Regions from separate parts of the Homo sapiens genome. Here all the other regions are linked to region 1. The links come from fine-mapping of genetic effects on gene expression. A gene starts in region 1. Each other region holds a variant in brackets. All regions are shown on one strand. Distances are between the middles of the regions. Region 1 holds the start of TMEM63A (transmembrane protein 63A). Region 2 has its middle 14 kb from the start of LEFTY1. Region 3 overlaps EPHX1 (epoxide hydrolase 1).

Region 1 (8,222 bases):
GTGCTGGGGACAATCACACATGGACACCTACCTACCTACCTACCTACCTACACACACACACACACACACACACACACACACACACACGAAGCACAGGAAGCATGAATGAGTGGAAAGCCCAAGAACATGGGAGCATCCCACAGACAGCCAAGTGACTTTCTCAACCTTCTAAGAGACTTGGCAATGGCTGGAGGTAGTGGGGGTTGTGATGCCAGAGTCATGGGGCTGCTGACTCTGAACAGAGTGTCACAAGAGTGACCTCTGGAACACAGATGTTCTTGGCTTCCCTTTAAAATCCCCCAGTGGCACCACCCAATGGAACACACCAGCCCAACACTTCAAGGCCACCACCTACCCCTCCTCCTTCCTGTCCCCACACTTACCAGACACTAGGGGAAGGAAGGACTGTGGATGGGCCCGTTGGAGAGGTCCTCAGTTGGAGCTGTCTCTGGCAAAGGCAAAAGCAGCCCCAGCCACCTCCCAAGCTGCCAAGGGCCAGGCGTCGGGCCTAACACTCATGTCCTGCAGGGCTTTCCTGACCAGCGAGTCCTGGGGTACCAAACTGTAGACTTTCCTGAAGGATCACAGACACCAAGCATCACATGGGAGCCACCCTTTTCCAGTGTAGGGGTCTGGATGGAAACCCTCCAGCACACACCTGTGTATGCATGCTGCCCATATGGACCTTTAGGTTCTGCCCAGTGGGCTCCCTCCTGCCTTGATCTCTCCCCAAACTCCCAGAACTGGTTCTCCATCCATCAGTGCTCCTCTGTGCGACCCTACTCCTCCTTCCTCGGCCAGCACCACCTGTGGCCCCAGCCTCTCTCCTCTTTGCCAATGGCTCAGGGACCTGCTGGGTCTAGGGGAGCAGCCCTCTCCCACAGAAACCCTGGAGGTTGTGGGCTCACGGTAGGGCCCCAAGCAAAGGACTTCACCTGGGCCCCAAGGGCCAATGCTACTGGGGAGGCTCCCCAGGGTTCCCCAAGAGCTAGAATCAGGAAAAGGGAACACAGCAGCATGAACAAGGAAGGCTTGAAATGTGAAGTGGAAAGAAAAAACATCCCCATAAAATGCTCACAGAGAGAGCATTGTCCCTGGAAAGGGGAGGGTGCTGTGGTGGTGCTGGGAGTGGCATACCCTCGCCAGTGCTGCAGAGGAGAGAGGCCTCTGCGGAGGGAAACACCTGCGGCTCCTCTTCCCCCTCCCTCCAGCCCCAGTCATGCCTCTAAGTTACTTGTCTCTTGCCAAATAGGCTTCCCAGGGTGGTTTGACAAAGTTTGATATGAACTCAGGGAGGTGGCTAGCAAATACTATCAGCCTGAGACGGAGGTAAGGTCAGGTGGCCAGTCCTGTCTGCCCTCTCCGATGAGCACCCAGGTTAGGGTAGAGCTCTGGGGACCCACAATCTCTCTCAGACCTTTCAGCTCAGTCCCAGCCTGTCCCTGCCCATTAGACACATAAAGTCCAGATCCCCCTGAAACAGCTCCGTCCCTCTGGCTCTCCATGGGACAGCTCCTCTGCATTTTCACAAACAGGCACGCTCTGAGCAGGCAGCTGGGAACACAGACACCATGGGACAGTGCTGCCAGGCTGAGGAGAAGGCAGGGGGAGGGGAGCACCCAGCTGGCAGCTGTATAGAGGAGGCCAAACCAGCAGCTAGGCACTGTGGTTGAAGTGGCACTGCCTGGCTGAGAACCCCTGGCAATATTCAGTCATCCTAGATGTATGTGAATGCCTAGCACTTACCTGTGCCTTCCAGAAATTCTCCATTCATCCCCTTATTCCTACTCAATATGCCGAGGGTAGGAAAGCCAAGAATTACTGCTGAGGCCCAAGAGCCAGAGTGGGCAGCAGGTGACTTCACGCTCCCAACCCAAAGTTCAACCCATGTGCAGGCAAGCGTCTGATTGTGGCCAGTGGGAGAGGGCTAAATCCAACAGCTGGTCTAAATTTGCCAAAGTAAACTACCTATGCTAATCCACTGCCAGTCTCCATTGGCAGCAAGGACTGGCCTGGTGGTCAACTTGACAAGCTCTAGAAATACCAGCAGAATGTTGCAGGAAGTATATGGATATTGTTCGTTCTTGCAAGAAGGCCCGTACAAATTCAGGGTAATTTTATCATCACCAAATCTTTCAATCCTGTGATGACAATAGCGAAACTACAAGCAGCTCCAGGCCTTCTGCCTCAGGAGCTAACTCTGGTCTTTCAGATGCAGAATAAGGTTGCAAAGTAAAGTACAAACTTCTCCTTATGGCAACACCAAACAGGACCCAGTAACCTGGACAACTGTTTACCTCCTACCCTGGAGCACAAAGGAAATGACACAGCCCCTGGCTGAAACCAGAGGCAGTGTGGCTCAGGGATTATGTGAGCAGGCTCTGGAGTTAGGGTCTCAGCACCACGCAGTTCAGACAAGCAGCCTAACCACTCTGTGCCTTGGCTTCCTTCGCCAGGAAATGCGAGTGATGACTTTCTCTCACGGAGCTGTTGGGAGGCACAGATCCCAAACAACACCTGTAAAGCACTTAGCCCAGGACCCGGCCCTAGCAAGCAATTAGAAGCTGTCTGCCTTTATTTTAAGTCGCCCCTCCAGCTAATGGGAAACACAAGGGCAGGATCCCACCTGACGTCTTCTCTGTTAGAGCCCAACGAACAGCTAGGAGAGACCTTTGCCCCCACACTAAACAAAGGAGAGGGGCGTGTGAAGGGAAAAGGAGCCTCGGCTTCCGTTCATATCCCCCTTGAAGGCACAGCAGACTTGAGGATGACCTGAGAGGTGTCAAGGGAGGGTCAGTGGGTCCGCCACGCTGTCCACCCCTGCCCTTGAAGAGGACACCACCTGCCTGGGGCTGAATGACCAAGGCCCCTCCAGGGCCTCAGGTAGCTAGTCTTATCAGGTGCTGGAACCTTTGCGGATTTGGTTTCTTAGCAGAGCTCGCCTCACCCTTTCCGCCCCCGCCCTTCCCCCCAGTCCCCGAGTCCCCAGCCTCCCTCCTCAGGACTCCGCCAAGGCTGCAGGAAGTGGTCACCCAGGAACAGCCCGAGGGGTGGCCTCTGCCTTCCTGGCGTCAGGAGAGTCGGACGCTTGGCCCTTTCCCAGCCCGGCCTCGTATAGGGTCCGAGGAGCCCATAGCTGCACTCCTAGTTAGGTGGGAGGTCGGACTCCGCCGACAAATCCCAAAGAGAGGGGTGGGGAAGAAGGAGATACCAGCCCTGAAAGCGAAAAGCCGGAGAGGAAAGTCCTGAAAAGCCGCCAGGAATTCCCAAGGAGCGCAGGGCTGGAATGGAGGCGCTGCCCGGACCCTCTCCTCCCACCCAATCCCGCGTCGTCACCCCCTGCTTGGGGTCGGGGGCTCTGGGGTCTGCGTAGGCTGGGAGCCGTTCCGGAACCGGACACCTGGCGCGCACGTCCCGGGAAAGGCGGAGGGTGCATTGCCCCTCCTCACGCCCCCTGTCCCCTGTACCTGCGGCGGCGGCGTGTCTGGCGGGACCCAGCAGCGCGGGGCGTGTTCCGACCACTTAAAAGTTACAAAGTGAAACTCCGGCGCCTCCTGCACATGCGCAGAGCTGCGGCCACCCCTTTCCCAATTTGGAGTCTTGGCCCGCGGCGGCGCAAGCCTGTACGCAGCTGACTGCGCCTCCCGCGGTGGCCCTCGGCGGTCCTCTGCCCCGGCCTGGCCTCCTGGTCGCCGCTCAGCCCCGCAGCTCCTCCCGGAGGTCTGCAAGCCCCGGACCGGCCAGCTCACGTCCAGGCTCCAAGAAGGGATCCGCCGGGGCGCACCCTCTTCCGTCCCCCGGCACGAGCCCAGTCTCTGGACGCCTCCGGGAGAACTGGGCCAAGCACAGGGTGGTCGCGGCGCAGGGAGAGCATCTGCAAACGTTGGTCCCTGTAGTGCTTTGAATTTCCCCGAAGAGCTCTTAGACCCGCCCCGGGAGAGTGGGGTTGCGGGGGTGGTAGCATGGGGAGCTCAGCAGGATTCAGCCCGCACCTCGGCTCCGGGTAGTCGGGAACCGCGCGGAGCGCCCTGCAAGAGGCCACGGCTCCCCCGCCGCTGTAGAAGGCCGGACCGTGAAAGCCCGGAGGGTCTCCGTTCGGGCAAAAATGTGGGGGCGGGTCGCAGCATTTCCAACGCCCCCTGGGGCTAGTCCATTACTGCTCGAGCCAGGGCCGCCAAGGGCACCTACTCCAGCCCAGGTCCGAGAGCGCGGCATGCCTCCCGGCCGGGAGCCAAATGTTTCCAGGGAGCCGGTGGCCTCCACAACCGGACCGCAAGCTCGCGAGGGCAGGGCCGGCCCGCCGCGCCAGGGACTGCTGGGCGCTGCGCGGGAAGCGAGGCTGGGTTCGGGGAGGACCGCGCGCCCTGGGAATCAAGGAGCAAACCAACCCGTCCGCAGGCCCCTGTTTCCCTATCTGTGAAATGAGTGGTTGGACCAAAGCTTCCTCTCAGGTCCCTTCCAGCACCCCTCTCTGAGCTCTGAGCAGTCCTCACCCCACATGCATGCCTTTGCAGGTTCTCCGACCTCCCTTCCATTTCTGAGCTTTCATCTTTTTCTGTAACGGCATAAAAATATCCTCCTTATGGCCGGGCGCGGTGGCTCATGCCTGTAATACCAGCACTTTGGGAGGCCGAGGTGGGCGGATCACCTTAGGTCTGGAGTTCGAGACCAGCCTGACCCGCATGGAGAAACCCCGTCTCTACTAAAAATACAAAATTAGCCGGGTGTGGTGGCACATGCCTGTAATCCCAGCTACTAGGGAGTCTGAGGCAGGAGAATCGCTTGAACCTGGGAGGCGGAGGTTGCGGTGAGCTGAGATTTCACCATTGAACTCCAGCCTGGGCAACAAGAGCGAAACTCTGTCTCAAAAAAAAAAAAAAAAAAAAAAAAATTCCTCCTTACCTCCCTGTCCCTGATTCTAGCGCCAGTCTGTGGCTGTCCAGGAGTGGGGTGGGGAGGGTCTCTTCCTGCCTCTCTCAGTTCTTTTCTGTCCCATCTGTCTTTCCCCTTCTCTCCCCAAAGCTCTAGCCACTAGTTATTTTCCAGGGTTTTTCCTCTATGCCCCCCGCCAGTATCATCTCTGCCCTTGTCCCTCCATAGCTGCGCCTGGCCATCCCCCCTCCCTGCTCTCTTACCTCCACATCTGACGGTCTGCAGAGTCCTGGGTGTGGCCCCTGGACTCCCCGTTGGCTCCTTAGACTGTCCCTGTCCAATCTTTCTTCCACTCCCCACTCCCGCACCTGCCTGTCCTCCTTCCTTCCTCAATGAATGGTGCCCCCACCTGTCTGGTCTGTGCCATGGGTCCAGGCAAGTGCAAGGTTCCGGTCTTGGTAATTAGAATGCTGGAGCCACTGACAAAGATTTCAGAGAGAGAAAGGATTTCTAAATTTGTTCTTGAGTAGGTTAAGGTTATTTCAAAATCAAGAGAAGGCCTTGATGGATCGATATGTGAGTTGAGATAGCCACAGCCTTTGTTATGTCAGTTGTGTGAAGTGCTTGTAAAATCACTATTTTATTTTTTAATTTTTAATTAATTATTTACTTATTGAGACACAGTCTCACTCTGTCGCCCAGGCTGTAGTACAGTGGTGTGATCTCAGCTCACTGCAACCTCCACCTCCTGGCTTCAAGCGATTCTCCTGCCTCAGCCTCCCAAGTAGCTGGGATTATAGGCATGTGCCACCACACCCGGCTAATTTTGTACTTTTAGTAGAGACGGGGTTTCTCTATGTTGGTCAGGCTGGTCTCAAACTCCCAACCTCAGGTGATCCTCAGGATTATAGACGTGAGCCACCGCGCCCAGCTGCACAGCTCTTACAGCTATAAATTCCAGATCCTCTGAAGCTTTATTTTCTTCTCTAAGTATAGATGATAATTTTGATCACAGATTTTATTTTGATGCAAGTAGGATTGGAATAAAGCCCAGTCACTATGCCCAGGAAAGTCAAAGTGTCAAGAACAAAAAAATTTCAGTATTGGCCGGGCGCGGTGGCTCATGCCTGTAATCCCAGCACTTTGGGAGGCCGAGGTGGGCGGATCACAAGGTCAGGAGATAGAGACCATCCTGGCTAACATGGTGAAACCCCATCTCTACTAAAAATACAAAAAAATTAGCCGGGCGTGGTGGCGGGCACCTGTAGTCCCAGCTACTCGGGAGGCTAAGGCAGGAGAATGGCGTGAACCCATGAGGCGGAGCTTGCAGTAAGCGGAGATCGCGCCACTGCACTCCTGCCACTGTACTCCAGCCTGGGCGACTCCGTCTCAAAAAAAAAAAAAAAGAAATTTCTGTATCAATTCTGGGAGGGCAGGTACCATAGATTCTAGAATCAGAATGCATTTTATTTTTATTTATTTTATTTTTGAGACAGAATCTCACTCTATTGCCCAGGCTGGAGTGCAGTAGTGTGATCTCAGCTTACTGCAACCTCCGCCTCTTGGGTTTAAGCGATTCTCATGCCTCAGCCTCCCGAGTGGCTGGAATTATAGGCGCACACCACCATGCCCAGCTAATTTTTGTATTTTTAGTAGAAATGCACTCTCACCATGTTGGCCAGGCTGGTCTTGAACTCCTGGCCTCAAGTGATCCGCCCACCTCGGCCTCCCAAAGTGCTGGGATTACAGAAGTGAGCCATCGTGCTGGCCCTGAAAGCATTTTAATCCTAGTTTCATGTATTACCTAACCAAGATCTTTACCAAGTCTTGGCCAACTCAAGCTCCTTCCTTAGTTTTACAATCAGGTTGACCTAATCGCTGTAGAACTTTCTGCTCCTTCCTCAATTTGCAGAGCTTTGATTAAAATGGAAAATTACAGCCGGGCACAGTGGCTTGTGCCTGTAATCCCAGCCCTTTGGGAGACTGAGGCTGCCGAATGACTTGAGGTCAGGAGTTCCAGACCAGCCTGGGCAACATGGCAAAACCCCATCTCTACTAAAAATACAAAAAATTAGGCCAGGTGCAGTGGCTCACGCCTGTAATCCCAGCACTTTGGGAGGCCGAGGCAGGCGGATCACGAGGTCAGGAGGTTGAGACCATCCTGGTTAACACAGTGAAACCCTGTCTCTACTAAAAAATACAAAAAATTAGCCAGGCATGGTGGCAGGCACCTGTAGTCCCAGCTACTCGGGAGGCTGAGGCAGGAGAATGGTGTGAACCCGGGAGGCAGAGCTTGCAGTGAGCCAACATAGCGCCATCTGTACTCCAGCCTGGGCGACAGAGCTGTCTCAATAATAATAATAATAAAAATACAAAAAATTAGCTTGGCGTGGTGGTACATGCCTGTAATCCCAGTTACTCAAGATGCTGAGGCATGAGAATCGCTTGAACCTGGAAGGCAGAGGCTGCAGTGAGCCGAGATTGGGCCACTGCACTCCCGCCTGGGTGACAGAGTGAGACTCTGTCTCAAAAATAATTAATTAATTAAAATAAAATAGAAAATTACAAAATTATAGAATAAAATGTGTTTTATTCATGTTTTACAAAGTCTTTATTATCTGGATTGGGGATGCACAACCCACACTTAACCCCAGGTCTTAGGTCCAGAGTGGTGGTGGAGGACTTTAGCCCAGATCCAGTGACAGGACAAGTAAACAATGACACATTGGGCTTTCTGCCCTCAGGTTACAGTATCTCCACATGTAAGTGCTTAGAATATAGTGCAGTGAATAATAAGAATAGAGAAAACTGAGCAAGGGCTCTCCAGTGGCCAAAGATTCTCATTCCTGAGAAGCAAAAATTAGGTGAGGTAACTTGTCAGAGGAAGCAAATTCAGGGCTCACTAGAGAGCACAGAGCATTTGTCCATCAGCAGTTCAGTCATCGCCAGCTCTCCTGGTACCCTCGAACACTTCAGAAACACACACAAGTCAAGTCCCTCGATGGCTACACTAGGCGCCTATGGCTGGAGCCTCCTTGGCACGAGCGCACCATCCGAGGCACAGCTGCACTTCTGCACCCTCATGTTGGGCAGGCTGACCACCTGGGGCCTGGTCCTGCCTCCCTCCTTGATGCTGACGATCATGGGCAGCGAGTCAGTCTCCGAGGCGATGCACTGTCGAGGCCCCAGAAACGGCCACTTGAAGGCCAGGGCCTCCGGGGGCTGCCGGCAGGTGCCCACACACTCATAAGCCAGGAAGCCCGGGGGCTCCAGCACCCAGTTCTCGGCCCACTTCATCCCCTGCAGGTCAATGTACATCTCCTGGCGGCAGCAGCGGGTGCCCTCGGTCA
Region 2 (8,222 bases), 20 kb after region 1:
TGTCCTCCATGGGAGTCTGAGCTACTCAAGGACAACAGGGAGGGCCCACACAGGGCATGTCTGGAAACCCCAAGGAGCCACATGGGCCCTCAGGCCTGGGGTCAGGGAGGTTGATGGTGTGGGTTGGGGCAGCCCAAGACACCTGGACTGGCCTTGGGGTATTTCCTGAGCACTCTCAGTAGTGTCTGCCCCTGCCCAGGGAGGGGACAAAAGCCACCCTGGAGACCCCAGATGCTGGGCTCCGAATTAGAAGCCACTCCACTCCTGGACTCTTAGCTTTGCTGACCTCAGAGCCTAGGCCTGAGTCCAGCTCATCCCCACCCATGGAGGCCCCACGATGACCTCTGACCTCTGTGTTTTCCCATGGCCCTCACCTGGCAACCTGGCCTCTGGTTGGAGTCACATCCTGGCCTATCAGGGGCAGGAGGGTGGCTGAGGGCACAGGGTCCCATTCCTCATCTGCCCTCCTACCTGGTCCTCCTCCTCCTCCCTGCATCATGTCCTCAAGTTCAGTCCCAGGGCTGGGCCCTCAGTGGGGGTGGTGAGCTTCCTCTCGTTCTCCCATTTCCTGCCCCCTGCTGCCCTCCAGGATGGCAGATGTGGCTTCAGGATGACTTCACAATTCCTGGCCTTTTGGGCCCTATCTGACCCTGCAGACCAGCCAGATCCCCCACCCCCACCCACCCACAGGCCTAGGAAGCCAGGCTCCTTCCTCTGCATGACAAAGGATGGGGCTGCCCTCCCTCCTGAGGATGCAACAGCCCATTGTAAACAGTCTCCCAATCCACATTCGCTTTCTTCTGGCTGATTGCCCAATTATTTTATTTCCCCAGCAAAACTCTTGAACCCATTGGAAATCCACATTCAGGAAAGAGGTCTCTGTTTGCAGAGGGATAATAGGTCTGGGGGCTTTGCCTTCAGTCTGCCCCTACTGATCTCCCTTGCCCTGGCCCACACCCAATCAGTCCTGTGAATTAATAGTGTCTTACCCTCTCTCCAACCCCTGGCCAGAAGGGTCCCAGGGTGTGAACTGCGTGTTACAAACAGCCAGAGGTCAAGAAAAGAGCCTGCTTCTCTTTTCTCCTCTATACCAAGTGCCACTTCACATGCCAGTCATTCACAGCTGCCTCCTGGGCTCCCACTGCCAGCCTGGCCTCTCCAATGGGCACCAGAATCATCTACCCGAATGCCCTTCCACTGCCACCTGTTCCCATCTCAGTACACCCAGCCAGGTCTCCAGACCTGGGGCTCATTCTGTTGTTTTTTGTTTTTGTTTTGTTTGGTTTTTGAGACAGAGTTTTGCTCTTGTTGCCCAGGCTGGAGTGCAATGGCATGATCTCAGCTCACTGCAACCTCCATCTCCGGAGTTCAAGAAATCCTCCTGCCTTAGCCTCTCAAGTAGCTGGGATTACAGGCGTGTGCCACCACACCTGGCTAATTTTATATTTTTGTAGAGGTGGGGTTTCACCATGTTGGTCTGGCTGGTCCCGAACTCCTCACTTCAGGCAATCTACCCACCTCGGCCTCCCAAACTGTTGGGATTACAGGCATGAGCCACTGCACCCAGCCCTGGGGCTTATTGTTGTTGTTGTTGTTGTTATTATTATTATTATTATATTATTATTATTATTATTATTATTATTTGAGACAGAGTCTTGCTCTGTTGCCCAGGCTGGAGTGCAATGGCGAGATATCGGCTCACTGCAACCTCCACCTCCCAGGTTCAAGCGATTCTCCTGCCTCAGCCTCCCAAGTAGCTGGGATGATAGGCGCATGCCACCACTCCTGGCTAATTTTTGTATTTTTAGTAGAGGTGGGGTTTCACCATGTTGGTCAGGCTGGTCTCGAACTCCTGACCTCAGGTGATCCACCGGCCTTGGCCTCCCAAAGTGCTGGGATTACAGGCATGAGCCACTGCACCTGGCCAGGGCTCATTCTTGAATACTTCCTATCCCACATCCCTCAGAGTCAGTCCCCAGCAGGTGTCTTGGTCTCACTTCGAAAACACATTTTATATCCATTCGTGACCCTCCATCACCTGCCAGGGCAACTGCAACTGCCTCCACCTGCTCGCATTCTCCATCCTCGGAGTCAACAGTGGTCTGTGACAAACTTTAATCAGAAAACATATTCCATTAATCAAAGCTCTCCAAAAATTAACTCAAAATGGATCATACACCTGCATGTAAAACACAAAACTATAAAACTCCAAAAAGAGAACATAGTAGAAAACATAGATCATCTTGAGTTTGGCAATGACATTTTTTGACCCATGAAAGGAATAATTGATATAAAGTTGGACTTCATTAAAATGAACCTCTGCTTTGCAAAAGACACTGTCATTCCCTCAGTTATACCTTTCAAGAAGAAAAAGAAATAGACACTGTCAAGAGAATGAGAAAAGCCGCAGTCAGGGAGAAAATATTTGGAAAAGACATATCTGATAAAGAACTGTTATTCAAAATATACAAATAACTCTTTTTTTCTGTGTTTTTTTGTTTGTTTGTTTTTTGAATTTTTGAAGCAGGGTCTTACAGGGTCTTACTCTGTTGCCCAGGCTGGAGTGCAGTGGCACAATCATGGCTCACTGCAGCCTCAACCACCTGAGCTCAAGTGATCCTCCTACCTCAGCCTCCCAAAGTGCTGGGATTACAGGGGTGCACCATTGTGCCCAGCTAATTTTTGTATTTTTTGTAGATGGGGTTCAGGCCCATGTTGAACTCCTGTCTCAGGTGATCCTCCTGCTTTGGCCTCCAAAAGTACTGGGATTACGGGTGTGAGTCACTGTGCCTGGCCTGAAGAACTTGTAAAGCTCAACAATAAGAAAACTAACCACCCAATTAAGAAATGGGCAAAAGACCTGGACAGATACCTCATCAAAGAAGATATACAGATGGCAAGAAAGCATATAAAAAGATGCTAACTGGCCAGGCACGGTGGCTCATGCCTGTAATCCCAGCACTTTGGTAGGCCGAGGTGGGTGGATCACCTGAGGCCAGGAGTTCGAGAGCAGCCCGGCCAACATGCCAAAACCCCATCTCTACTACAAATACAAAAAATTAGCCAGGTGTGGTGGTAGGCGCCTGTAATCCCAGCTACTTGGGAGGCTGAGGCAGGAGAATGGCTTGAACCCAGGAGGCGGAGGCTGTAGTGAGCCGAGATCACGCCATTGAACTCCAGCCTGGGTGACAAGAGCGAAACTCTGTCTCAAAAAAATAAAACAAAACAAAAAACAAAACCAAAAAAAGATGCTAACCATTGGCCGGGCGTGGTGGCTCAAGCCTGTAATCCCAGCACTTCGGGAGGCCAAGGCGGGCGGATCACGAGGTCAGGAGATTGAGACCATCCTGGCTAACACGGTGAAACCCCGTCTCTACTAAAAATACAAAAAAATTAGCCGGATATGGTGGCGGGCGCCTGTAATCCCAGCTACTCGGGAGGCTGAGGCAGGAGAATGGCGTGAACCCAGGAGTGGGAGCTAGCAGCAGTGAGCTGAGATGGCGCCACTGCACTCCCAGCCTGGGTGACAGAGCGAGACTCAGTCTCAAAAAAAAAAAAAAAAGAAAGATGCTAACCATCATTTGTCATTAAGGAATATGTCAGTGGGGAACAACAATGAACTATCACTACACAACTATTAGAATGGCCAAAATCCAAAACATGGACAACATCAAACACTGATGAAGTAACAGGCAGAGTAACAGAAACTCTCACTCGTTGCTGGTGGGTATGCAAAATGGCAGTCCCTTTGGAAGATAGTTTGGCAGTTTCTTACAAAACTAACCATACTTTTATCAAATGATCCAGCAATCACGCTCCTTGGTACTTACCAAGTACCATATGAGCTGGAAACTTATGTCCTCACAAGAACCTGCACGCAGATGTTGATGGTAGCTTTATTCATAATTGCCAAAACTTGGAAGATGTCCTTCATTGGGTGAATGGGTAAATAAACTGTGGTACATCCAAACAATGAAATATTATTCAATGCTAAAAAAAAAATGAGCTGTCAAGCCATGAAAAGACATGAAGGAATCTTAAATGCATACTACTAAGTGAAAGAAGTCAATCTGGAAAGGCCATATATATATGATTGCAACTATATGATATTCTGGAAAAGACAAAGCTATGGAGACAGTAAAAAAATGTGTGGTTTCCAGGGGCTAGAGAGGAGGAAGGGATGAACCGGCAGAGCACAGAGAATTTTTAGGGCAGTGAAACTACTCTGTGTGTTACTGTACTGGTAGACACATGCGTTTATACATTTGTTCAAACCATCAAATGTGCGCCAAGAGCCAACCCTAATGTAAACTCTGAACTCTGGGTTATAATCATGTGTCTGTGGCCGGGCGTGGTGGCTCATGCCTGTAATCCCAGCACTTTGGGAGGCCAAGGCGAGTGGATCACCTGAGGTCAGGAGTTTGAGACCAGCCTGGCCAACACAGTGAAACCCCATCTCTACTAAAAATACAAAAATTAGCTGGGTGTGGTGGTGGGCACCTGTAATCTCAACTACTCGGGAGGCTGAGGCAGGAGAATCCCTTGAACCCTGAAGGGCACAGAGGTTGCAGTGAGCCGAGGCTGTGCCACTGCACTCCAGCCTGGTGACAGAGCAAGACTCTGTCTCAAAAAACAAACAAACAAAAAAACAAACAAAATGATGTGTCTGTGTAGGTTTATCAAATTTAACAACTGTACCAGGCTGGTGGGGACATTGATAGTGGGGGAGTTTATACAT[A/G]TAGGGGGAGAGAGTATATAGGAATTTTTTGTGCTTTCCTCTCAATTTTGCTGTGAACCTAAAACTGCTCTAAAAAATAAAGTCTACTAGAGAAAAAAAACAAACCTCCAGTGACTTCTTATTACACGTTGGATAAAATTCAAATTTCTTCCCATGTCCTTAAAGCCCAGCTGACCTGGGCCAGGTTTGCCTGCTCCACCTCAGGTCCTACCTCTCCTCCTCTCCTCACTTGCTCCCTGAGAACAATGCACACAGGCCTCTTTACTCTCCCCAAACGTGACATGCCAGTTGCACCTCAGGGCCTTTGCACAAGCTGTTCTCTCTACTTGCAAGGGTCTGTGCCCAGATCTTTGCGTGTTAACTTGTTCTTATCATTCAGGATCGGATGTCACCTCCTCAGAAAGGCCTCTCTTATCCATGCATACATATCTACATGTTCCTTCCTGCCTCTACCAATTACTATCTCTCTTTATCATTCTGGTTTATCTTCCTCATAGTACTTAGTACTATCTAAGATTTTCTTCTCCACTTCTTTAACCATCTATTGACTGCCTCCCCGCTGGAGCGTTGCTTCCAGGAGCTCAGAAAATTTGTCTAACCTGTTTCCTGCTATGTCCCTGTGCCTAGAACAATGACCAGCACAATGAGGTATCATGGTAGACACTTCATCAATATTTGTCGAATGAATTAAAAGATGGGCATTCTCACTGTGCAAGCTTGGTGAACTCTGGATTTCAATTCTTTTGTAAAATGAGGTAGATAGACGAGATGATTCCTTTCAGCTCTAAATCACTAGGAGAGAGAAAAGGGGTGCTTGGGACTTCTCTCTGGATTAACCCCCATTGGTGCTAAATGCTGCCAGGCCTCTGCCAAGGAAGGTCTCCCAGGACTGAGAAGGGTAATCAGTTTCCCAACCAGAAGTCAGCTGTCCAGAGCCCTCTGAGCCCCAGGCCCATGCCTGCAGGCCGGATTGTTTCTCAGTCAGCAATCCTTGGTGTGGACTGGGAAGTTTCTGTGCCATCCAAGGCTCAGCTCTGGCAAGGAACAGGATTCAGAGTCCACACAGAACACCAGTTAGTTCTCCCCTCTTGGGCTGACCAGCATCTGCCGGCTGTGTCTTAATAAGAAGTGGGCTCCACTCCATCTCCTTCTCTGGAAATAAGCTATTATTTATTTATTTATTTATTTATTCATTCATTTATTTAGAGATGGAGTCTTGCTCTGTTGCCCAGGCTGGAGTGCAGTGGTGCAATCTGGGCTCACTGCAACATCCGCCTCCTGTGTTCAAGGGATTCTCCTGCCTCAGCCTCCCGAGTACCTGGGACTACAAGCGCCCACCACCATGCCCAGCTAATTTTTGTATTTTTAGTAGAGACGGGGTTTCACCATGTTGGCCAAGCTGGTCTTGAACTCCTGGCCTCAAGTGATCCACCCGCCTCAGCCCTGTAAAGTGCTAGGATTACAGGCGTGAGCCACCGCGCCTGGCTAGCTTTTAAGGGTTGGTTTCCCTAGACCCAGGGTGGAGGGCTCTGGCCACCCAGGAATTCCCAGAGCATCTTCTGACAGGAAGGCACCTAGTGCATTGTTCATGGACCTTCCTGTGAGGGGGCAGCACCAGTGGCCTGTCCTCCTCAGCCCAGTGACAGCAGGTCCTTGCTGAAACCAGCCCATGCTTCCAGCTCCAGGGAGCTCCCAGCGAGTCCAGATGTTGGGAGGTTGGGGAGGAGCACAGCTTGCAGTGTCAGACCAGGGAGACCCCTGGGGTGGAGTCTGGAGACCTGGATTTGGCAGGGCTTTGTCACCGACTCATAACCAAGACATTCTGCACCTTGGGTCTGAGGAACAGAGATCCTACAATTTCAAAAACAGTAAATGTCTCCAACCTTTCAGAGCAAGAAAGCTGCACAGTGTAACTGAGAAGGGAGGTGGATCAAGCTATTTGGGGGAAGCTAGGAAGAGGGTCCTTCCTCGCCCTGAGTCAAGGCCCATCCTTCTGGTCCCAGGGCCAGACCTTGCACTTGCCTGGACCCATGGCATAGATCAGGCAGGGTGGAGGGGGCACCATTCATTGAGGCAGGGAAGGGAGGACAGGCAGGTGCGGGAGTGGGGAGTGGAAAGAAGATTGGACAGGGACAGTCTGAAGAACTGATGGGAAGTCCAGGGGCCACATCCAGGACTCTGCAGAAGGTCAGATGTGGGGTCTTTGGCAGGAGGTAAGAGAGCAGGGAGAGTAGATGGCCAGGCACAGCTACAGAGGTACAAGAGCAGAGATGATACTGAGGGGAGCACAGAGGAAAAACTCTGGGAAATAACTAGTGGCTAGAGGTTTGGGGAGAGAAGGGGAAAGCCAGAGGGGACAGAAAAGAACTGAGAGAGGCAGGAAGAGACCCTCCCCACCCCACCCCTGGACAGCCACAGACTGGCGCTAGAATCAGGGACAGGGAGGTAAGGAGGATATTTTTATGCCGTTACAGAAAAAGATGAAAGCTCAGAAATGGAAGAGAGGTCGGAAAATTTGCAAAGCCACGCATGTGGGGTGAGGACTGCTCAGAGATCAGAGAGGCTTGGTGCTGGAAGGGACCTGAGAGGAAGCTTTGGTCCAACCGCTCATTTTAAAGAGAGAGAAACTGGGGCCTGCGGAGGTCACCCCACTGTAGATGGTGAGCCAGCCTGGAGTCAAGCATCTATAGGTTAGAGGATCTAACCATATCTCCAAGGTCCAGGCCTCATGGTGCCCCTGGAGCCCCTTGTTCTCCTTTGGGAGAACAAAAATCAAATTAAAAAGCTGATTATTTTCTGGCTCAGCCTGAGAGGCTCTGCTACCTTGGTTCTGTAATTAAAAATGAAATAATACATAAAGCGAAGGAGAGAGCTGGTCCCCAGGGCTGCCGTGGGACCAGCCCTCATTTTCCCACATAAGGCTTCAGCTTCCTGCCCTGGGTCTCCAAAAGCAGACGGTGATATGGGGGACAGGTTGAAGGCTGGCCACATCAACTTTCAGGCCAGGAAAGCCCCACCTCAGATCAAAGCCAAGGCTGCTGTGCCCCTGGGAGGGAGCATTATGTGAGCCTGTTTGTGGGTCAGCATTGACAGGGCAGGCCTGGGGAGGCCTGTGTGACTTGAGCATGAGCTGAGGGAGGCTGCAAGGGGATTGGACATGGCACAGGGCAGTGAGCTGTGTGGCCTTGGGCAGCCCATGACCCTCGCTGGACAACGGGGAATTTGACCTGCACCACGTTCGTGTCCCTCCAGGGTCTCTGGATCTAGACTAGGGCTGTTTCCGCTAATTAGGAATCATCTCGGGTGTGTGTTTTATTTCCACTTTCCATGTTTACTGTTGGTGTTTCCATAAGAAGTTTCCAAGATGTGTTAGTTTGGTGTCAAATAAAACAGAAGCATCCTATGGTGTGTGTGTGTGCGTGTGTGTGTGTGCACATGCGTGTGGGAGCATGTGTGGGTGTGTCCATGTGTAAGTGTGAGGCTG
Region 3 (8,222 bases), 42 kb before region 1:
TGTTCTCGCCATATAATAAAAAGTGTAAACACTAAGGAAATCAATGGACTTTATAGTTAATAATATCTCAGTCTGGTTCGTTAATTGTAATAAATGTACCATGCTAACATAAAATATTAATAATGGAGGAAACCCGGTGGGTGTGAGGTATATGGGAGTTTTCTGGATTCTTTGCAGTTTTTCAGCAATCTAAAACTGTTCCAAAATAAAGTTTAGACAGACAACACCATGTTTTCTTTAGAGAGTGGGATTACATGTGAGTCTTCCCCCTTTGGCTTATCTGTGTTTTCTAAGTTTTCTACAGTAAACATGTATTATTTGTATAATATATTAACGACAGAACAGAACATTAGCTAGACCATGCTGACTGCACCAGCCCTGGTGGCAGAGAGTTCCAAGCATGGCAGCCGCCCTCACTGTGAATGCCGTAAGGCCCCAGGTGCTGTCCAGGGCACTGGCCTGGGAAGGGGCTGCCTTCTTTTGATATGCAGAGGCCCCAAGTCAGTCCAGAGGAGACAAGAATCCATTCACCTGCCCTTGGCTATGATGATGTTTTCAGCATTGCACTTAAAAAAAAATCTTCCACTTTATTTTATTTTAATTTTTTGAGATGGAGTCTTGCTCTGTTGCCCAGGCTGGAGTGTGGTGGTGTGATCTCGGCTCAGTGCAACCTCTGCTTCCCAGGTTCAAGCGATTCTCTTGCCTCAGCCTCCCGAGTAGCTGGAATTGCAGGCGCCTGTCAGCATGCCCGGGTAATTTTTTTGTATTTTTAGTAGAGACGGGGTTTCACCATGTTGGCCAGGCTGGTCTTGAGCTCCTGACCTTAGGTGATCCACCCGCCTCAGCCTTCCAAAGTGCTGGGATTACAGGCGTGAGCCACCACACCAGGCCCAAAAATACTCCACTTTAAAGAAAATATCATTTGGTAATCAGAAAAAGGTGACATTTTGTCAATGTGTATGAAAAAAATTATGCATTTAATACCTGTTCATTGTAGAAAAATTGGAAAGTACATAAAACTCAAAGAGAAATTAAAAGCACTGGAATCTACTGCTCAGGAGAACTGCTTTTTACATTCTTGGAGTTTATCCTCCCAGACTTTTAAAATTCACCAATACATAGTATAAGTACAGTATAAGCATAGATGACTTTTTATAAAAACTGGGTCACACAATGGATATGACTTGATCATTTGCTTTTACCTCCCAGCAATATCTTCTGATCAGTTTTCTATGTTAAATAAATATACATCTACCTTGTCAGTTTAGATGACTGTACTGGACTCCAGTATACTGTCAAACTATACTTGATTAATCCTGTATTGCTGGATACGTGGGGCTTTCTCCCTACCCTCCAGATTTTAAATTATTGAACAAGTATTTATGGAGGCCTGCTGTGAGCCAGGAGCTGTCCTGAGCCCTGGAAACCCAGCAGTGGCTGTACAGACCTGGCCCAGCTGTCAGGGGGCACCTCTAAGGAAACCGGGAGGCAATAATCGTAGCTCCCTTGCAGGGAGGTTGTGAAGGCTGAGTGAGGACATCTGTGCACCTGGAGCACAGTGTGAGTGTGAAACCAGTGTCAGCCCTTATTACTGTCAATACCATGAAGGGGCGGCGGGGGCACTAAGGGTGGCAGGACTCAATATCTAGGCTCTGGGGGGTGCCAGAGCCTGACCGTGCAGGGTCTTCTCTCTCCCTCCACCCTGACTGTGCTCTGTCCCCCCAGGGCTGGACATCCACTTCATCCACGTGAAGCCCCCCCAGCTGCCCGCAGGCCATACCCCGAAGCCCTTGCTGATGGTGCACGGCTGGCCCGGCTCTTTCTACGAGTTTTATAAGATCATCCCACTCCTGACTGACCCCAAGAACCATGGCCTGAGCGATGAGCACGTTTTTGAAGTCATCTGCCCTTCCATCCCTGGCTATGGCTTCTCAGAGGCATCCTCCAAGAAGGGTACGGGGCTGCTAGAGGTTCCATAACTGCCCCGTCCTCGCCAAGGGTGGGCCCGGTGTTCCCACCAGGCTCTCCTTCCGGCGGGGTGAGCAGGGAGTTGGCCCGAGGAAGCTGGGAAAGGAGGGGCCTGAGAGGCCGGCCCCAGACACACCGCCCTCCGGGGCTGGAGATGCCACCCCTATATTTGGGCTCCAGGATTCCTTCTTGCCTCTGTGAGCTTTTCTGACCTCCACCTGGGGGTAGGCGGGCCTGAGAAATTTCATAGAACACCAGAGGGCCCAAGGAGCAATCTGCCTGTGACTCCGTGACTCCATGCCTTTCCCCATCACTGCCAGGGTTCAACTCGGTGGCCACCGCCAGGATCTTTTACAAGCTGATGCTGCGGCTGGGCTTCCAGGAATTCTACATTCAAGGAGGGGACTGGGGGTCCCTGATCTGCACTAATATGGCCCAGCTGGTGCCCAGGTGAGGTCACTGTTGGGGTGGTGTGTGTGTGTGTGTGTGTGTGTGTGTGTGTGTGTCCTCTAAGAAGTGGACCTGTGTGCAGGGTGGGCCAAGGACCCCCCAGGGGAGAGGAGGGAGTGTGACCTGTCACTCAGCAGTGCCTGAGGCACGTTGACTTGGATCCTCCTGTCTGTAACCCAGGGTTGCGGCTCTGGGTCAGGTTCCCAGGCAGAGAAGGCCTGTGATAGGAGGGGAAGGTCAGGCATTAGACCTCTCTGCTGGACCAAGCTCTGGGATAGCCCTGAGCAGAACTCCCCAGAAACTGTATTTTTCCCCCAACCTCCCTTCTCCAACTCCCATGGCCTCCCCAGTGGGGCCAGTGCTGAAAGAGGCTGGCTCTGTGCTCGCTCCTCAGCCCTGAGGCCTGTTCCTCCGCCATCTCTCCTCTCTCCCTGTCCTTGACACCAGCCCAGCCTCACCCCGGCCCCTCTCTCTGCCTTCAGCCACGTGAAAGGCCTGCACTTGAACATGGCTTTGGTTTTAAGCAACTTCTCTACCCTGACCCTCCTCCTGGGACAGCGTTTCGGGAGGTTTCTTGGCCTCACTGAGAGGGATGTGGAGCTGCTGTACCCCGTCAAGGAGAAGGTATTCTACAGCCTGATGAGGGAGAGCGGCTACATGCACATCCAGTGCACCAAGCCTGACACCGTAGGTGAGTGTGCTCAGGGGTCCTCGCCCACTGCCGGCTCCACTGGGGCAGGGAGACACCCGCGGGGTAACCTCACCACCCCACCCCAATGCTGCCCACAGAAGGAAGCCTCTTGTAAGGACCTCCCAGCTCTTTAGATCTTTAAACTGCATTTTCCCATAGAATCAAGAGGATGGACCCTCAGCAGATTCCCAGGCCAATTTAGCAACTCTGTTTAGCCGACTCAGTATTCATAGTGGCTTTCACCCCTGATCTCCCACCCCTGAGTCTATATCCTACACTGAGAAGCAGAGGGATGGAGGGGGTGAGGTAGGAGGAATCCTGGGAGTGGGCAGCTCTGGGGCTGCAGGGGAGAGGGGAGAGGGTGCCCTGGGGCCTTGGGGAAGAGGTTCCCAGGCAGTGAGGGAGGGCCCAGCAACCATGTCTGCCACCAGGGTCCTGTTAAAGGACAATACTTTTTCAAAAAGGTAAATTTATAAAGGAACCAGTAAAATTTTAAAAAGAAACAATTCAAAGACAAATAAGAACACTGAAATTAATTTGCTAACAGACACAAAACTTGTCAACATCCACAGAGTAATATCAATTAAATCTCCATGGGACAAAATTCATTTGCCTCTATGAACAAGAGTCATTCGCATTACCCTCAGTTCTTTACAATTCACAGAACTGTAAAATAGCTCAATGACAAGGAAAGATGGGACCCCTGTAGCATCACGTCAGTCCGGAAGGTCTGCTAGGTAACTCCCTAGATCTTGTCCAGAAGACACCCAGGAATTGTCTTGCCCATCTCAAAGTTCTTCATAGTTTTCATGGCAAACCCATGCCCACACACACGAGGCAGCTCATAATCATAATAATGGCACTTTATAAAAGTCAGCATTTTTCTCTGATTATAAAATACATGTTGTCAAAAAGCTTAAAAATGCAAAAAGTACAAAACATTAAAGACAATCTCATATAACCTCTTCTCCCTCCCCACATCCCCTCTCCTTCAAAAGAACTTGTGAACATTTTGGTGAGAATTTTCACAAGTGAAGTACGTCCATATCACCAACATGGCCCCAACACTCCAGATGCCCCTCGGGGTTCTCTCCCAGGTACCACGCTCTGACTTCTGACTGAGATGGTTTTGATTGTGCCTGTTTAAGTCCTATGAATAGAATCACAGAGTATATACCCTTGAGTCTGGCTTCTTTTGCTCAATATTATGTTTGTGAGATTCATTTATGCCATTGTCCCAGCTTTATTTATTTATTTTTTCTCAAGACCCAGTCTGGCTCTGTTGCCCAGGGTAGAGTGCAGTGGTGTGATCTCAGCTCACTGCAACCTCCGCCTCCCAGGTTCAAGCAATTCTCCTGCCTCAGCCTCCCAAGTAGCTGGGATTACAGGCACCTGCCACCATGCCTGGCTAATGTTTTGTATTTTTAGTAGAGACGGGGTTTTACCATGTTGGCCAGGCTGGTCTCGAACTCCTGACCTCAGGTGATCCACCCGCCTCGGCCTCCCAAAGTGCTGGGATTACAGGTGTGAGCCACCGCACCCAGCCTGTCCCACTGTCCCAGCCTTTTTTTTTTTTTTTTTTGAGACAGAGTCTTGCTCTGTTGCCCAGGCTAGAGTGCAGTGGTACGATCTCGGCTCACTGCAACCTCCACCTCCCGGGTTCAAGCAATTTGCCTGCCTCAGCCTCCCAAGTAGCTGGGATTACAGGCATGCACCACCATGCCCTGCTAATTTTTTTGTATTTTTAATAGAGATGGGGTTTCACCATGTCAGCCAGGATAGTCTCGAACTCCTTACCGCAGGTGATCCACCTTTCTC[A/G]CCCTCCCAAAGTGCTGGGATTACAGGCATGAGCCAATGCCCCCAGCCTGTTCCAGCCATTTTTAATGACTGTACAGTATTTTGGCTTATGAGTATATCAATATTTGTAACTGATCCCCTATTTTAGACTTTTTTAGGTGGCTTCTCATTTTTCATGAATCAGAGCACATAGACTGAAAAACCCCGCCTTTTTAAAAACAGCACTTCTCATTGGGACCCCACCAAATGCAGAGGCGTAGGCCCTTCAGTTTGAAGGAAGCTGAGCAGGCAGTGTGCCAGGCCCTGGGAGACAGTGGGAAGGTATCGTCCCTGTTTATCAGATGAGGATGCCGAGGCAGAGTTAAGGAAGCGAGGCATGTGAGCACCCAGGAGTTAAGGCAGGCCTGTGCTCGAACGTGGCTTCCTGCACACAGCCCCGCCCTCTGCGGCCAGTGCCACACATCACACCTGAAGCTCCAGCTCTCTGGTCCCCAGGCCTGAGTCTCTCCCTTGCTCCCCGCTCCCCGCCAGGCTCTGCTCTGAATGACTCTCCTGTGGGTCTGGCTGCCTATATTCTAGAGAAGTTTTCCACCTGGACCAATACGGAATTCCGATACCTGGAGGATGGAGGCCTGGAAAGGTGAGGCCCTGGTTTGCCCCTGCAGTCATGACCCTGGTCCCAGCAGCCAACCTCCTCACCCTCTTCATCCCCTTGTCTGGTTGCTCTGCATGGGGCACTCAGCAAATTCTATTGTTGGCTTTCTTACAAATCCTCACCCTGTGACCAACGTAGCTGCATTTTTTGGGTGAGGTGGCCTGGTGGGTTGTTCCCAGCCTCACAGTGCATGGTCAAGACTAGGATGCAGGCTCACCTGCTTGTGCTCCTTTTGCTGAACAGGCCCCTCTGGGGATTAGGGAGCCCACAGGGCAGCAGGCACCACATTATTGTCAAGAGCACCTGGGCTTTTCCTCCTGATTCCCTGGAGAGCCTGGCATCAGGGTCACGTGACTGCGTGTTCCAGGAGGGTGGTCGCAGAAAGACAGGAGGCTGTTAATCTCTCAGAGCCTTAGAGGCTGTATCCTCTACATGCCTGACTCCCAGCTCTGTGGCCTGACTCAGGCTTCACCAAGGTCAGCTCTGACCCACCCTTTCCAGGGCCCATCCCTTTATTCCTTCAGTGACACACAGGACCAGACAGTGCTGGGGATGGGAAAGACAGTAAAATGAGACTGAATCCTGCCTTGGGGGTAGGGACTCTGTCTTGGCCATGCTGTAGCCCCATCACCTAGAACAATGCCGGGTGAACAGTGGGAGAGCCCAGTACATAGATGTTGAATGAATGCGCAAAGGACTGTGAGAGTCCAGTGGAAGGAGGATTCTTTGTCTAAGCGGCAGAGAGGGGAAATGACCAGGAGAATGTATCTGATTTGGGCCTTGGAGGATAAGTAGGAGTTTGCTGGATGGAGGAGAGAAACTTAGGCAAAGAGAAAAGCAATAAAAATGCAAGGAAAGGGTGCTTGGAAAGGGTGGCTTGTCCAGAGGCTGAAGCAGGTACACTGGGGCCAGATCAAAAGCAAACTCATTCCTGCAGGCAGGTCCTCACCTCCTCCAAGAGCCTCAGCAGGGCCTTCGTCTGGGATCTGTTTCCCCTGCCCTACATTCAGCAGGACACAGGGGTTGATGGAGCTTCTGCAAGACCACCTTGGCAGGGGGTCTGGCCTGCTCCTTGCACACGGATACCTGGAGCAAGATGTGAGGCCCCACCAGACTATCCCACTAGGCCACTCCTGCAGCTCTGGCCCCGGGTTACAGGGAGCACCAAATCCCTGAGCAGGAGGTAGACAGGATCAGATCTGTGTTCTAGAAAGAACAGGAATACACTAGGGTGGAAATGGTGGTCGTGGTCGTTTTCAAGCTGCGGGCAGAGCTGAAAGGGAGATGGAAGCACTTGGCCAACTTGCAGAAATCCAGTTCACAGAGGTGATGTGTATACTGGAACTAGTTTTCATTGACCAGTTTTCATTTTGCCACCAAAATCACATTGAAAAGGCTGTTCCCTTTATCTCTGTCCCTGCTCCCTGCTGCTGTTGCTAGAGATTCAGGGTTTGAGTGAGGAAGGTAGGGTTGGGAGGGCGTGCTCTGGGGAAAGTGGAAGGTGGGGTGGGGGCTGTGGAGTATGCATCCTGGACCCAAGCTGGCTAGGTTTGGATTCTCCACTTAATAAGTAAAATGGAGATAATAGTACCTATGTCCCATAGGCTGTTGAGAGGAAAACATGAATTAAAAGAAGGTAAGGAGCTTAGAACATGCTGCCTGGTATGTGGTCACCACAGTAGCTGGTGCCCTGAGCAGTTTCACGGTGCAGGGGTTGAGGGGAGGGAGGAGAGGTCAGTGGCAGGAGAGAGGGGACAGGTGTGTAGAGGCAAGGTGGGTGGGGGGAGGACCTTGGGGTGATAAGAGACACTTCAACTAAATCCATGCGCTCCAGTCTAGTGCCCTGGGCGCAGCCTGCCTGTGACACGAGGATACCACACACGTTGCATGAGGTCTGAGGAGGGAAGCCGCATGGGCAGGGCCTGGCATTTGTAGGACTTTCTGGCTGCCCTTTGTCACACAACTGCATGTGGCACTGAGAGTGGGGCTTTGTGTTCTGCGTTCCCAGGAAGTTCTCCCTGGACGACCTGCTGACCAACGTCATGCTCTACTGGACAACAGGCACCATCATCTCCTCCCAGCGCTTCTACAAGGAGAACCTGGGACAGGGCTGGATGACCCAGAAGCATGAGCGGTGAGCCTGGCTGAGCCGAGAACAGGGGCCTCTGAGGCTGGAGGCAGGGGGACGGCCAGTCTTGGGCTCCACGAAGGGCACTTGGTGGTGGGATAAGTATAGCCTTGCCTGCAGGTGCCCCAGGGGCCCTTGGATGGGAACACTAAAGGTCGAGGTGTTTGGAGAAAGCCCTCATGGAGGGACCAGGTGCCTGGCTCCCGGGCGGCCCTCAGTACCGCTCCCCAGTCTAGGATGCTGGTCTGGAGTGGCACTGATGGTTCTGGGATTTCCAAGTCTCACATGGAAACCCTCAAAGGTGGGGATTTAGAGGCTGTCCCATGCCCCTGCCTGGGTGGCCCTCCCAGAAAAGAGAAGGCCCTCAGTGAGGGGAGAGCGGTTGAGACCCTGGATTTGTCCTTTTCTTTATGGCTCCTTGTGGGTGGGCCAGCTGATCTCACCCCCAGGCGCTTTAACCCCCTGCTGTGCAGGACGGAGGGGCGCAGGGCCACAGCCTCACCCCTCCGTCGGCTCTTTCACTTCCAGGATGA

Evidence for each region. PIP is the estimated chance that this variant, and not a neighbour inherited with it, causes the effect.
Region 2: its variant is fine-mapped to the expression of TMEM63A in thyroid (GTEx, PIP 0.99).
Region 3: its variant is fine-mapped to the expression of TMEM63A in CD4 T cells (Kasela 2017, PIP 0.91).

Annotation. Positions count from the first base shown.
Region 1 is chr1:225,878,837-225,887,058 of GRCh38, forward strand. TMEM63A (transmembrane protein 63A) reads right to left here and starts at 3,544. Exons shown (of 25, transcript NM_014698.3): 1 at 3,468-3,544; 2 at 384-574. LEFTY1 (left-right determination factor 1) reads right to left here. Exons shown (of 4, transcript NM_020997.4): 4 at 7,446-8,222. The coding sequence ends at 7,891. RefSeq lists enhancers at 1,150-2,100, 4,303-4,352, 4,413-4,462 and silencers at 2,953-3,072, 3,633-3,792.
Region 2 is chr1:225,898,768-225,906,989 of GRCh38, forward strand. No RefSeq gene overlaps it. Among named protein-coding and RNA genes, the nearest start is that of LEFTY1, 14 kb to the left of the region's middle. RefSeq lists enhancers at 553-1,315, 1,316-2,078, 7,669-8,222. The variant A/G (reference allele first, on the strand shown) is at 4,739.
Region 3 is chr1:225,836,929-225,845,150 of GRCh38, forward strand. It overlaps EPHX1 (epoxide hydrolase 1), which reads left to right. Exons shown (of 9, transcript NM_001136018.4): 4 at 1,726-1,953; 5 at 2,289-2,418; 6 at 2,901-3,109; 7 at 5,438-5,546; 8 at 7,570-7,695; 9 at 8,218-8,222. It also overlaps a transcript of TMEM63A not described here. Among named protein-coding and RNA genes, the nearest start is that of EPHX1, 31 kb to the left of the region's middle. The variant A/G (reference allele first, on the strand shown) is at 4,928.